Homo sapiens: one gene and its partners. The protein of the gene in region 2 interacts with the protein of the main gene of each other region in a pairwise test. Each region holds a gene or a part of one and is shown on either strand. Other genes may lie near its edges.

Region 1 (3,500 bases), on a different chromosome or scaffold from region 2:
CTCTAACCTTTACCTCTTAGGCTCAAAGGAGCCCCCCATTTCAGCCTGCACAATAGCTAGGACCACAGGCATGCACCACCATGCCTGGCTAATTTTTTGATTTTTTTTTTTTTCTGTAGAGATGGAGTCTCACTGTGTTGCCCAAGCTGGTCTCAAACTCCCAGGCTCGAGCGATCCTCCCACCTCGGCCTCCAAAAATATTTGGATTACAGGCATGAGCCACTGCACCCAACCTGTTCTATTTTTTACAGTACCAGAAACCAGAGAAAGAGGGCAGGCCCACACACCCAAAAAGGATGTCCAAGGGAGAGAAAAAAGAATAAGAGTGAATTTAAAGATTTCTGCTGAGGAAGAAGAAATCTGGAAGACCTTCAAGTTAGTGTCAAGCTTGGTCTTGCATGAAATATAATAATGATAAGAAAGGGCTCCTGTTCTCATGGAGCTTATTGGGTAGAGGGCACCAAAGATATAATGGCTGCTACCCAGCCATTCTTACAAAATGCTCTAGACTTTCAGAGGCGATATAGTCTTGGGTTGTCTGGAAAATGTTACAGAGAAGATATGACTTGAGTAATATCTAAAAGGAGGCGCTGTCCCTGGATAGTCCAGGAAGAGCTATCATGCCATCTTTCCACTGGCAGGAGTAGTGGGAGTAGTGGGAGCAGAGGTGAAGGAGTGGGAGAGTACATTTCCTGTTTGTTTAGTGAATAGATTGCCTGGAACGCAAGGCAATCACGTAGGGAAGAGTAGGAGGACGAGCTGGCAAGGGGTTAACACCAGAGAATGGAGGAGGGCTTTGAATGCCCAGTCTGATACCTTTATACATCATCACTTAGGCAATGGGAAACCACTGACTATTTTTGAGCAGGAGAGGGATGTAATCAAATATGCTTTTGAGGCGGTGGCTCACGCCTGTAATCCCAGCACTTTGGGAGGCTGAGGAGGGCAGATCACCTGAGGTCAGGAGTTCGAGACCAGCCTGGCCAACGTGGCAAAACCCTGTCTCTACTAAAAATACAAAAGAAATGGTCGGGCGCGGTGGCTCACGCCTGTAATCCCAGCACTTTGGGAGGCCGAGGCAGGCGGATCACAAGGTCAGGAGATCGAGACCATCCTGGCTAACACGGTGAAACCCCATCTGTACTAAAAAAATACAAAAAACTTAGCCGGGCATCGTGGCGGGCACCTGTAGTCCCAGCTACTCGGGAGGCTGAGGCAGGAGAATGGCGTGAGCCCGGGAGGCGGAGCTTGCAGTGAGCCGAGATCGCGCCACTGCACTCCAGCCTGGGCGACAGAGCGAGACTCTGCCTCAAAACAAAAACAAACAAACAAAAAATTAGCTGGGTGTGGTGGCACACACCTGTAATCCCAGCTACTCAGGAGGCTGAGGCAGGTGAATTGCTTGAACCCGGGAGGCAGAGGTTGCAGTGAGCCGAGATTGCCCCACTGCACTCCAGCCTGGGCAACAGAGTAAGACTCCGTCTCAAAAAAAAAAAAAAAAAAAAAAAAAAAAGATGCTTTTGAAAGACCTCCAGAAGTAAGCACTGGAATAGATTGGAGAGGGTGGAGATCAGAGGTTAGACGATCAGGAAAAAGGATATTGAGATAGTTTAGGGGGATGGTGATACAAGCCCGGAAGAGATGAGGGAAAGCCATCCTCTGAATGAAAGCTGGCTCTCAGAGGGGCTGTCAGAGCCACAGCCTAATTTTAAGGACATGAATATTTGTGTTCCAAATCTCCTCCAAGCCATTTTCTCGTTCCTCTCTTCTTGCTTCCTCCTTCCTTCTTGTCCCTCTGCCTTTCCTCCATTTTCTCTATTTCCTCCCCATTACTTCCAGTAATGCTCAGTAATCAGCTATGATTCTGAACATCATTTGGGAAGGAGGGGAAGCACTGAGGGAGGCTCTGAGCAAGATAGAAGGAAGGAAGGAAAGAAGGTGAGAAAGAAAAGGAGGAAGGAAAGATAGGCGAGAAAGAAGAGGAGGAAGGAAGGGAGGAAGGCAGACATTTCTGTAGGAGCATTTCCCATGGACCAGACTGAGAGGATGGGGATACTGAGACTTAGAGGGATTGCAGTACTTGCTTGGAGTCACATAGCTAATTGCCATCTAAGTCTGATGAACTCCAGAACTCATGTCCTGTTTGCCATTCCACGGTGATTCCCTTTCCTGTCTCCCCTGATCTGTTCAACTTATGTAATAATTTCTTATTCCGATACCCTAATATCACTTTGTCATGGCTCTTTCACTCACCACAGTCTGTCTTACATTATAGTGATCTGTGTATATGTCCAGCACTGGCACATAAAATGCGGACAATGATTGAATGAATGATTGGTTTATCTCTGTTACTAGATAGTAAGGAGGCTGCAAGGATCTCACAGCAAGGACAGCCCAAGATCATATCATTAGTATTTAATCTATAACTGTTGGATTGAACATATTTGAATGTCTTAGGCACCTCTGTGGGCATCACGCCCTGTTGGACACTGAAGCTACCTTGGTAACCTTCAAGACCCAGGATTTGTGTTGTAATTTCTAGCATAATCACTAAAAGAACAGAAACAAGATGTATAGCACCTAAACTAGAAGAGAAAGACAAATGGAATGGTAAAGCTAATCAGTCTAAAAGAAGTCAAATCAAATGGCCAACAGGCACATGAAAAGATGCTCAACATTACTGATCATCAGGGAAATGTAAAGCAAAACCACAATGAGATCATCTCACACCCATTGGGATGGCTATTATTTAAAAAACAGAAAATAAGAAGTATAGGTGAGGATGTGGAGAAATTGAAACTCTTGTGCACTGTTGGTGGGAATGTGAAATTGTGCAGCCATTGAGGAAAACAGGATGGCAATTCCAAAAAATAAAAATAAAAACAGAATTACTGTGTGATCCAGGAATTCCATTTCTGGGTATATATCAAAAGCATTGAAAGCAGAGTCTCAAAGAGATGTTTGTACATCTATGTTCATAGCAACATTACTCACAATAGCCAAAACGTCAAGGCAACCTAAATGTCCATCAATAGATGAATGGAAAACAATATGTGGCATATCCACACAAGGCACCGTATAACTCAGCCTTTCAAAGGAAATAAATTCTGACCCATGATACCACATGGTGAGCCTTAAAGCCATTATACTAAGTAAAATAAGCCAATCATGAAAGGACAAACACTGGAATAATAATTCCAATTATATGAGGTACCTAGAATAGGCAAATTCATAGAGACAGAAAGCAGAATGGTGGTTGCCAGGGGCTGGAGGGAGGGGGAATTAGGGAGTTATTGTGTAATGGATACAGAGTTTCAGTTTGGGAAGATAAAATTCTGGAGATGGATGGTGGCCATGCATTGTGAATGTACTTAATGACATGTACTTAGAGCATACTTAGAAATGGTTAAAACGGTAAATTTTATGTTCTAGGTATTGTACCACAATAAAAATAACTTTTAAAAATGAAGGTGAAAAAAAATCCCGTTTATTCTTTATTT
Region 2 (3,500 bases):
AGGCATGAGCCACCGCGCCTGGCCAGAACGGTTAAACAGTAAAGAAAGCAATGAAAACAAAAGGATTCCTGCCTTAGATAATATTAGGATGTGCTTAGCGTCTCTTGAGAGACGCTCATTTTACTAACAAGTACCTCTGTGGCGAGGGTGGCAGGTGCAGGGTGATCTTCAGACTGTGCTCCAAGGAGCCTCCTTGGTGAGCAGGTCGCTCACTGGGACCGAGTGGCTGCGGGAGGAGGTGGGCCACCCTTCCAATAGGTTCCAATGGGGCTACCCTATGTGTCCCGCTAAGCAGACACAAGGTTGGAGTCCCCAGCCACCTTCAACTAGAGAGTAGAGCCAGTGTACCTGCTTTACACATGGGTCCTCAGGAGAATATTTTCTTCCACCAAGGAATCTCAGAGGAGGGAGAATTCCATATAGTAGAACAGCCTTGAGCCTTAAATCAGACCTGGTTCTAGCCTAGAGTTTGTCAATGAGGTAGACAACTTAACTGCACCTACTACAGGTCTAGACTTCATTATAAAATGAAATGGCTCACCGGGCATGAACTCTCAGGAGTTCGAGACCAGCCTGACCAACATGGTGAAACCCCATCTCTACTAAAAACACAAAAATTAGCTGGCTGGGGTGGTACAAGCCTGTAAATCCCAGCTATTCTGGAGGCTGAGGCAGGAGAATCTCTTGAACTCGGGAGGCAGAGGTTTCAGTGAGCCAAGATTGCGCCACTGCACTCCAGCCTGGGTGAAAGAGCAAGACTCCATCTCAAAAATAAACAAACAAATAAATAAATAAATAAATGGCTCAATTATAAATCATCTCCAATACGCCTTCTAAGTCTAAAACTCTAGAATCATCCGGGGGCAGTGGCTCATGCCTGTAATCCCAGCACTTTGGGAGCCCAAAGTGGGCGGATCGCCTGAGGTCAGGAGTTCGAGACAAGCCTGACCAACATGGTGAAACCCCTTCTCTACTAAAAATACAAAAAATTAGCCTGGCGTGATGGTGGGCGCCTGTAATCCCAGCTACTCGGGAGGCTGAGGCAGGAGACTTGCTTGAAACCGGGCGGTGGAGGTCGCAGTGAGCCGAAATCATCCCACTGCACTCCAGCCTGGGCGACAGAGCGAGAGAGTGTGGCTCAGAAAAAGAAACAAACAAACAAAAACTCTAGAATCTACATCTACGTCTACCAAATGTTTCAAATGAAGATAATGACAACTTTCTCTCTATAGCAACTCTCAGCTCTCAGGAACTTTTCCTGTTCATACCTTTCCAACAGGCTTATATTGAGTTCAGAGACCACCACATTTAACACAAACGAGGGACTATTCCAATGAAATGTTTTAATTAAAATTAATCTATGGAATGTTACTTTTATTAATTCTTTACTCTGAAATTAATGTCTAAAACACACACACACACACACACACACACACACACACCAAAAAACCCCACCAACACTCTAATCTAGACAGTAGTTCAGCTTTATTTTCTTGATCGCCCAGAGCTGTTCTTTTTTCCTGGAACTAGAGAACATTTTATGTGTTAAAATAAAGCTAGAGAAATAGTAGAGGCCAGTACCGTCTATAGCAAGTCAAAAGGCCTCTGATTTTTCATTTACTTGATAGTGCTGACTTTATCTGTTTTCAAGAAATGTTTTTCCTTTTGCTGGATTAAACACTAGTGACAGGCAAAAAGCAGAGTAAGGAAAAACAAATAATGGGTTTCACCATGCTCTCCTTCTGGCTTGGCTATTAACTAGTTGTGTGGCCTGGAGCACATTACCTAACCCTTCTGAATCTCAATGTATTCATCTGCAAAATATAGATAATAACACACCAGTGCCACTAATGCTCCACCGCCCGCCACCACCAGAGTGTTAAATGAGGGAGAAGGGATAAGGCCAGGCACAAGAAGCAGGCAAAGTGTGGGTTCTCTCACTGATTCTTCAAAGCATGAGCATTTGCTTCATTTTCAAAAGTATGGACACTGCTACCAATGAACTCTGGTGATTAAAGAGAAACAAGTAGGCCGGGCGCGGTGGCTCACGCCTTTGGGAGGCCAAGGCGGGCGGATCGCGAGGTCAGGAGATTGAGACCATCCTGGCTAACACGGTGAAACCCCGTCTCTACTAAAAATACAAAAAATTAGCAGGGTGCGGTGGCTGGCGCCTGTAGTCCCAGCTACTCGGGAGGCTGAGGCAGGAGACTCGCGTGAACCCGGGAGGTGGACCTTGCAGTGAGCTGAGATTGCACCACTGCGCTCCAGCCTGGGAGACAGAGGGAGATTCCGTCTCAAAAAAAAAAAAAAAAGAGAGAGAAACAAGTTCCAGAAGTTCCATGTAGGTTGAATCAGGCCCAGAGCCAACCAAGAGTGGAAGCAAAAGTTAGGCTCCCAGGCCGGGCGCAGTGGCTCATGCCTGTAATCCCAGCCCTTTTTTTTTTTTTTTTTTTTGAGTGGAGTCTTGTTCTGTCGCCCAGGCTGGAGTGCAGTGGCGTGATCTCAGCTCACTGCAAGCTCCGCCTCCCAGGTTCACGCCATTCTACTGCCTCAGCGTCCCAAGTAGCTAGGACTACAGGCGCCCGCCACCAGGCCTGCTTAATTTTTTTGTATTTTTAGTAGAGACGGGGTTTCACTGTGTTAGCCAGGATGGTCTCGATCTCCTGACCTCGTGATCTGCCCACCTCAGCCTCCCCAAGTGCTGGGATTACAGGCGTGAGCCACCGCACCCGGCAATCCCAGCACTTTAAAAGGCTGAGGCAGGAGGATCACTCAAGCTCAGGAGTTCAAGACCAGCCTGGGCAACACAGCGAGTCCCTGTCTCTACAAAAAGTAAAAAAATTAGCCGGGTTGGCAGCACACACCTATTGTCCCAGCTACTCAGGAGGCTGAGATGGGAGGATCACTTGAGCCCAGGAGATGGAGGCTGCAGTGAACTAGGATCACGCCACTGCACTCCAGCCTGGATGACAGAGCGAGACCGTGTCTCAAAAAGAAAAAAAAAAAGTTAGGCTTCCAAAGTTTACCTAAACATCTTATTTAAAGAAACTCAAGTTGCTTCCTCATTTTCAATGTGGAAAAAGGGTCAGTGGAAAAGGGGATGGTGGAGACTGTGGAATTTACTATCAGTTCTGACTCTAGGGGTTTAACATCTGGCAAACTAGGCCTCATTTCTTCATCCATCATCAGATTTAGCTAATCTGAATCCTACTAATTGGAAACATCTATTAATCTAAATTGCCCTCCTGCTTCTCTGACAAAGCCGAAAATGACTTCAGAATATGAACCTTACAGAAACTGAATCATACTTTGGCCAAAATGAATTATACATTAAAGAATTTATAATTATATTACAGGTGGAGTCTGATGAGTCTGATTTTGTTGGCCAATTAAGAAAGGAAGGGCTGGCTGGGCGCAGTGGCTCATGCCTGTAATCCCAGCACTTTGGGAGGCTGAGGCAGGCGGATTGCCTGAGGTCAGGCATTCAAGACCAGCCTGGC
Region 3 (3,406 bases), on a different chromosome or scaffold from region 2:
GGTTTTTTTTGTGTGTGTGTGAGACAGGGTCTCACTCTGTCACCCAGGTTGGAGCCTCAACATCCTGGGCTAAAGCAATCCTCCCACCTCAGTTTCCCAAGTAGCTGGGACTAGAGGCACGTGCCACATGCACCCAGCTAATTTTTAAATTATTTTGTAGAGATGAGGTCTTGCTATATTGCCCAGGTTGGTCCTGAATTCCTAGTGTCAAGTGATCCTTCTGCCTCGGCTTCCCAAAGTATTGGGAATACTGGCATAAGTCATCACACTCGGCAAAACAGAATTCTCATTTAAACTTCCTTTGCAACGTTACTTCCAAAGACTTGCCTCTTTCACCTTCATCAAAGAAAAAAGACTTACTGACAATTCCTGAGAGACTTTTACACAGAAATGTTTAAAACAGAACTTTTTATACATTATAATTCTATAAGCTCTGCCAAATTTATATCAAACCTTTAACTGAATTTCAAAGTGAATGGTGTAAAAGATGACCACAAAGATTATCAAATGAATACTTTATTAGAGACATAACACGTATAAAATAAATTTCTTTTCATCATGGAGTTACCAGATTTTAAAACCAACCAACACTTTCTCATTTTTACAGCTAAGACATGTTAAATTCTTAAATGCCATAATTTTTGTTCAACTGCTTTGTCATTCAACTCACAAGTCTAGAATGTGATTAAGCTACAAATCTAAGTATTCACAGATGTGTCTTAGGCTTGGTTTGTAACAATCTAGAAGCAATCTGTTTACAAAAGTGCCACCAAAGCATTTTAAAGAAACCAATTTAATGCCACCAAACATAAGCCTGCTATACCTGGGAAACAAAAAATCTCACACCTAAATTCTAGCAGAGTAAACGATTCCAACTAGAATGTACTGTATATCCATATGGCACATTTATGACTTTGTAATATGTAATTCATAATACAGGTTTAGGTGTGTGGTATGGAGCTAGGAAAACCAAAGTAGTAGGATATTATAGAAAAGATCTGATGTTAAGTATAAAGTCATATGCCTGATTTCCTCAAACCTTTTGTTTTTCCTCATGTCTTCTGTCTTTATATTTTTATCACAAACCAAGATCTAACAGGGTTCTTTCTAGAGGATTATTAGATAAGTAACACTTGATCATTAAGCACGGATCATGCCACTCATTCATGGTTGTTCTATGTTCCATGAACTCTAATAGCCCAACTTATACATGGCACTCCAAGGGGATGCTTCAGCCAGAAAGTAAAGGGCTGAAAAAGTAGAACAATACAAAAGCCCTCGTGTGGTGGGAACTGTGGCCTCACTCTTACTTGTCCTTCCATTCAAAACAGTTTGGCACCTTTCCATGACGAGGATCTCTACAGGTAGGTTAAAATACTTTTCTGTGCTATTCAGCCAGAAATAGTTTTTGTGCTGGATATGATTTTAAAACAGATTTTGTCTGTCACCAGTGCAAAAACATTACAGATGTCTGGGCTAATACAAAAACACATAAGAATCTACAACTTTATATTTAATACTCTATTCAAATTTAACTCAAAGTAATGCAAAATAATTAGAAGTAAAAACTTAATTCTTCTGAGAGCTCTATTTGGAAAAGCTTCACATATCCACACACAAATATGGGTATATTCATGCACAGGGCAAACAACTGTATTCTGAAGCATAAATAAACTCAAAGTAAGACATCAGTAGCTAGATACCAGTTCCAGTATTGGTTAATGGTCTCTGGGGATCCCATTTTAAGCACTCTCAGATGAGGATCTTGCTCAGTTGTTAGACTATCATTAGTTTGATTAAGCAACTGAAGTTTACTTCATAAATTACTTTTTCCTATATCCAGGACTCTGCCTGAGAAATTTTATACATTCCTCCAAAGGTAAGTATTCTCCAAAGGTAAGTATTTGACTATTAACACAAAGGCAATGTGATTATTGCATAATGACACTAAATATTATGTGGCTTTTCTGTTAGGTTTATAAGTTTTCAATGATCAGTTCAAGAAAATGCAGATCATATATAACTAAGGTTTTACACCAGTGGTTGACAAACTATGGCCCACAGGCTAAACCCAGCCTCCCCTTGTTTTTATAAATAAGTTTTATTAGAACATAACCACACTCATTCATTTCTGTATTGTGTATAGCTGCTTTCACGCTATACTAGCAGAACTGAATAGTTGTGACAGAGACTGTATGGACCGTGAAGCATAAATATTTACCATCTGGCCCATTCTAAAAAAAGTGTGCCAATTCCTGGTTTACACTAAAATATAGAGTTTAGTGGGAAGCCTATTTGAAATGTGTTTTTTTTAGGGGCTGTAATTACCAATTAAAATTAAGGTTCAGGTGACTCAGCAACCAAACAAAAGGGATACTAATTTTTTATGAACAATATATTTGTATTTTATGGACATAAAAGGAAACTTTCAGAAAGAAAAGGAGGAAAATAAAGGGGGAAAGGGAAAAAGGGGAGAGATGTAAAATAAAAGGCCATTTCTTTAATATCATAATAAAATTAACATTCCATCCATGAAATAAACCAGAACTTGAGCTTAGAGTCTCTCTCTACTAAACACATTACTTTTGGAATGTTTTTGCATCTGGACAAAATGGTATCCAAATTGATCAGACATATAAAGTAGACAAGTGAAACTAACATACGACTGCCAGTTTCTAAGGAGTGTTACGGTCGCCATCTTCGTAAAGCCAGACCCAAACTGCAACCATAACAAGCTGTCGTCATAAAGGCAAAAATCTAAGAAAAAAGAAACAAAAATTCACATCAGATTTACAACACCGACTTATAAACAGTGTCCTAAAGAACAACCATATGAAGTTTGACCAACAATCTACCTAAAGATACTTCGACACTTACAAAAATATTTTACATTGTTTTTTTTTTTTTGATGATTTGTACAACTGTTTTATTCCCTCATACAATTACCCTCCCCCCTTCCTTTAAACATTTTAGCTCCTAATAATTTTCTCATTTGTGGACAACTTTACACTGAACATTTGTTCAATCTGTTCACATTCTGGGCTCACTTAAGTATTTGTGAATCCCTAAGCACTGTATTTAAAAATTCAGCATGAAGTTCTGTTCATGTAGTGGCTTCACAGCCAAGGAAGCCAGCAACTATCAGAACCTGAGGATGCATCAAATAATTTCTATGATGATGGAAGGTAACTTTAAAACTCAACTAAGACAAGTGGAAATGAATTATCAGGTTGGCTTGCTCTTGTATGGGAGACAGTCCTGTGTACAAATCTGCACTCTACTTGGAATTAATGAGAATTTCTTCAGCACCAACTGTGTGTATATCACTATACTTGGTACATATAAACAAACAGTAGATAATGTCCTCACCCTTTTGGGGCTTATGATCCATAGAAGACTAAAAGAC
Region 4 (3,500 bases), on a different chromosome or scaffold from region 2:
ATCCAGGACCACAGTACCCAGAAAACCAGCAAGTGAGGGGAATTAATACACCCCAATGCCTCTTGAAAGTAGGTTCAACAAGAAGGACAGGGTTGACTGCATCAGGATCTCCCAAGGAGCCTGCTAAAAATACAGATTCCAAGCTTCCAAATTCAGAGATGCTGATGCAGTAGATCTGGATCAGGGCCAAGTCAGGGAGCCAGTGCATTGACTGAACAACTGTGTTCTGTGAATATGAAAAGGAAGATTAGCATCTGCCCAGCTACTGTTAAAGGAAATAGTCTTCCAAACAGCTGAGGAAAGCTAATAGACCTTTTCCTAGAACCAGTGTCAATAGAAACCTGAGTAGACTGAATTTTGTGGGTTGGATTACATCCCCCCAAAATGCGTATGTTGAACTCCTAACCCCCATTACCTCAGAATATGACCTTATTTGGAAATAAGTTCATTGCAGATGTAATTAGTTGAGATCATACTAAATAGGGTGGTCCCTAATCCAGTATGACTAGTGGTCTTATAAAAAGGGGAAATGTGGATATAGGCACAGGTATTCAGGGAAAATACCACGTAAAGAGACACAAAGAGAAGGCTGCCATCTACAAGACAAGGAGAGGGCCTGGAAACTCAAGGGCTCAGCCTCAGAGCACTGACCAGCCTGCTGAGACCTGGATCTCAGACTTCTAGCCTCCAGAACTGTGAGACAATACGTTTCTGTTGTTCAAGCTACTTGGGTTATGGCAGCCCTAGCAAACTAATACACTGAACATCACATGGAAATAAGCCACCTACACAGAGGATCTCAATACTGAGACAAAAACGCTGAATTTCTTGAAGTTTCTCTGCTGGAAACACAGACTGCTAAGGCAATATATGAGGTGTTCCAGTTACAAAATCCCTAGTGAAGCGTACTAGTTTTGCCACTAGCTTTGTAGTACTCATATGATAAACCACCCAACGAACTTTTTTCTACAGAGAGGGCTGCTGACCCAGAACACCAGCTGGGATAAGCTTGGAAATCCACAACCTCCACTTAAAACACTATCGTTACTTAGCCACATATGAACTGTCACCTCTTTCATATTGGCTAAAGTTATCAACCTCCCAACTTTATATTGTACACAGCCCAAATTAGTTTTTTTTTTAAAGCCCCCAAAACAAACAAAACACTTTTCTGGTATAAGTGTCAGCTTGCTTTCCACCACTAACCTCTTAAATCATTTAAGTCCTAATTCATTTCTAAGCTAGGTGAATAGTCTAGGCTCATTAGTCTATTCTTGCTTACTAGTTAATTACTTTTATCTTTCCAAATTGATTTTAAAGGAGAACAAAAGGTATTGAATAGCCTGAGACGTGAAGAACCAACCCCATTAAAAAAGAAAATTCTGGATAGTAAAGACACACAATTCCTCTGATTAAAATTGCATTACCCATTTTGAACACAAAAAGCAGTTTAGACTTTTCCCTGGCACACCCTATAATGAGATTTGCCTTATGTCATGAAAATCAACCCTTCTATGCCTAATGCAGCATTTTGTTTTGCTGACTCACCACCAAAACCAGGTTGGCACTTGAGACAAACCTGCAGTGTCCTGGAACAAAAGTTTTTCAATGCTTTTGGAGGGCACACCACTTGTGACTGTGCCTGGGACAGAAAAGACTGCACCCACTGTTAAGCAGGAACATGACCCTTTCTAGGAGAGATAATGTGCCAATTCCTGGGAAAGTCAAACTTCTCTATAATCCATAGTTCCCATCACAGAGCTCCAATCCCAGCTGTGTTCCAGGACAGATAGGCAGAACTGCAGAAGGTATGGAAATACATCTTGATTGAAAGCATACATAGAATTACTCTTTGCATCACAAGGAGGCCCAAAGAAATACATCTGAATCTAACTACTCGGTTGGTATAAATGAATAGTTCTTCACTATATGCTCCCTTAATGTTTCAGGTGAAGGGGTCTGGCTTATAAACCTAAGGAGAATTCCCATGGCAGAGTCATAGTCATATATATATATATTTTTTCTTTTTTCTTGTTTTCCTGGGATTACAGGCATGAACCACTGTGCCTCGGCTTTATTTATTTATTTACTTTTTTCACTTTCTTCTGTTTTATTTATGTATTTATTATTAAATATTTTTAAATTTTACTTTAAGTTCTGGGATACATATGCAGAACATGCAGGTTTTTTCAGCTCCAGCATGTAAATTCTGCCAGAGGAATAAACTATAGTCAAAGTATAAATTAAATAAGATGTACCCGCACTAACATTTGCCCAGAATCCAGGTAGTAAACTCTGATTTCTAACTATGTAGTAAACTATGACTTCTGTACAGGAGCTGACTCAATTTAGAACACCATTAAAAAGAAAATAAAATGTGCGTTAAAAGACTTTTGCGTCAGTAAAGACTGAATCATTAGTGGGGTTGAATCATCGCTGAAGGCTGAGTCATCGCTGGAGGCTGGTTGAATCGTGCCTGTGTTCTGATGTTCTATTCCAGAAGTTTAAAGCTTGACATGAAAATAAGTTGAAGCAAATCACTCAAGTGAGACAGAACATTTCAAATTTCAAACATTTATTAAGGGGAAAAACAGCTGATTGTTAACAGCATAAACCAATTAGTTTTACTCAGACATCATGGTTTCCCTTAGTCAGGGGATGTAGTGATAGCGATAATCACAATAGGCAAAATCATGTAAATATTTACGACGTCTCCAGCACTGGGGCCTGAACTCAAGGATTACTTTGAAAGACGAACTTATCAGTACTATTAAAAGGATACCAAAGGTTAGTGCAGCATATAGAATCTTAAACAATAAAGGCTTATTCACATTTAAGCATTGCAACAGGCACAAAGAAAAAGAGTGAGCAAGAAAAGAATCCTTGATATTACTGGCCAGCAAAAAGGGAAAAGAGCATATGCCTTCCTTACCGCCCCAGCTTTCCCTCTGGTGGTACCCAGGCAACAGAATCCAACATCATGACCTTGAAAGGCAGAGGCGTAGTCATCCAACTTTTCAAAGTCCACCACTTCTTGATTCTAGGCAAGGACACAGTTGTATGTAGTTTCATGTTATTTAAACAACAGACCAAAAACCCCCTCTAGATTTAAAGACTAAGTTACAGAACATTACTGACAGGCCTGTCCACTTAACATCAAATTTTACAAATTCCTTTTCTCCAACCAAAAAGCAATGAACCTCAGTTGAAAATCAACAACACACACATATGTCCACAGTCTATATAACTGGACTAGGGGTGATCCAGATTTCTGAAGTCAGGTTCGATTATAATCTCTCTCTGGAAAAATAAAAGACCTGTGTGTAGCTAACCAGGAAGGAGACCACTGAGGTATGATGTGAGGGCAAGAGATGGCGTTTGGCATCTTAAAGAAGACCTAGCTGCAAATCTTGGGCTTGCTACACTCACTAGGCATGTAGTTACGGGCAAATTATTCATCATACACTACAGCTTTTTTTTTTCAGCTGTAAAATGGGGGT

What was found. Proteins that work in one complex are often made in the same cells at the same time.
Region 1: the proteins of PITPNC1 (region 2) and DGAT2L6 interact in binary tests that used the Homo sapiens proteins (3 or more experiments, as listed by UniProt).
Region 3: the proteins of PITPNC1 (region 2) and MAL2 interact in binary tests that used the Homo sapiens proteins (3 or more experiments, as listed by UniProt).
Region 4: the proteins of PITPNC1 (region 2) and HTATIP2 interact in binary tests that used the Homo sapiens proteins (3 or more experiments, as listed by UniProt).

Annotation. Positions count from the first base shown.
Region 1 is NC_000023.11:70,180,483-70,183,982, reverse strand, and holds part of DGAT2L6 (diacylglycerol O-acyltransferase 2-like protein 6), read right to left. Parts: intron 1-3,500. UniProt on the Homo sapiens protein: Diglyceride acyltransferase that uses fatty acyl-CoA as substrate. Particularly active with oleate as a substrate. Has no wax synthase activity to produce wax esters.
Region 2 is NC_000017.11:67,380,281-67,383,780, reverse strand, and holds part of PITPNC1 (cytoplasmic phosphatidylinositol transfer protein 1), read right to left. Parts: intron 1-3,500.
Region 3 is NC_000008.11:119,242,768-119,246,173, reverse strand, and holds the end of MAL2 (protein MAL2), read right to left. Parts: intron 2,758-3,406; coding exon 2,686-2,757; 3' UTR 501-2,685; downstream 1-500. UniProt on the Homo sapiens protein: Member of the machinery of polarized transport. Required for the indirect transcytotic route at the step of the egress of the transcytosing cargo from perinuclear endosomes in order for it to travel to the apical surface via a raft-dependent pathway.
Region 4 is NC_000011.10:20,366,714-20,370,213, reverse strand, and holds part of HTATIP2 (protein HTATIP2), read right to left. Parts: intron 3,041-3,500; coding exon 2,933-3,040; coding exon of another isoform or gene 2,834-2,932; exon of another isoform or gene 2,559-2,833; intron 1-2,558. UniProt on the Homo sapiens protein: Represses translation by preventing reactivation of elongation factor eEF1A. May also inhibit nuclear import by competing with nuclear import substrates for binding to a subset of nuclear transport receptors.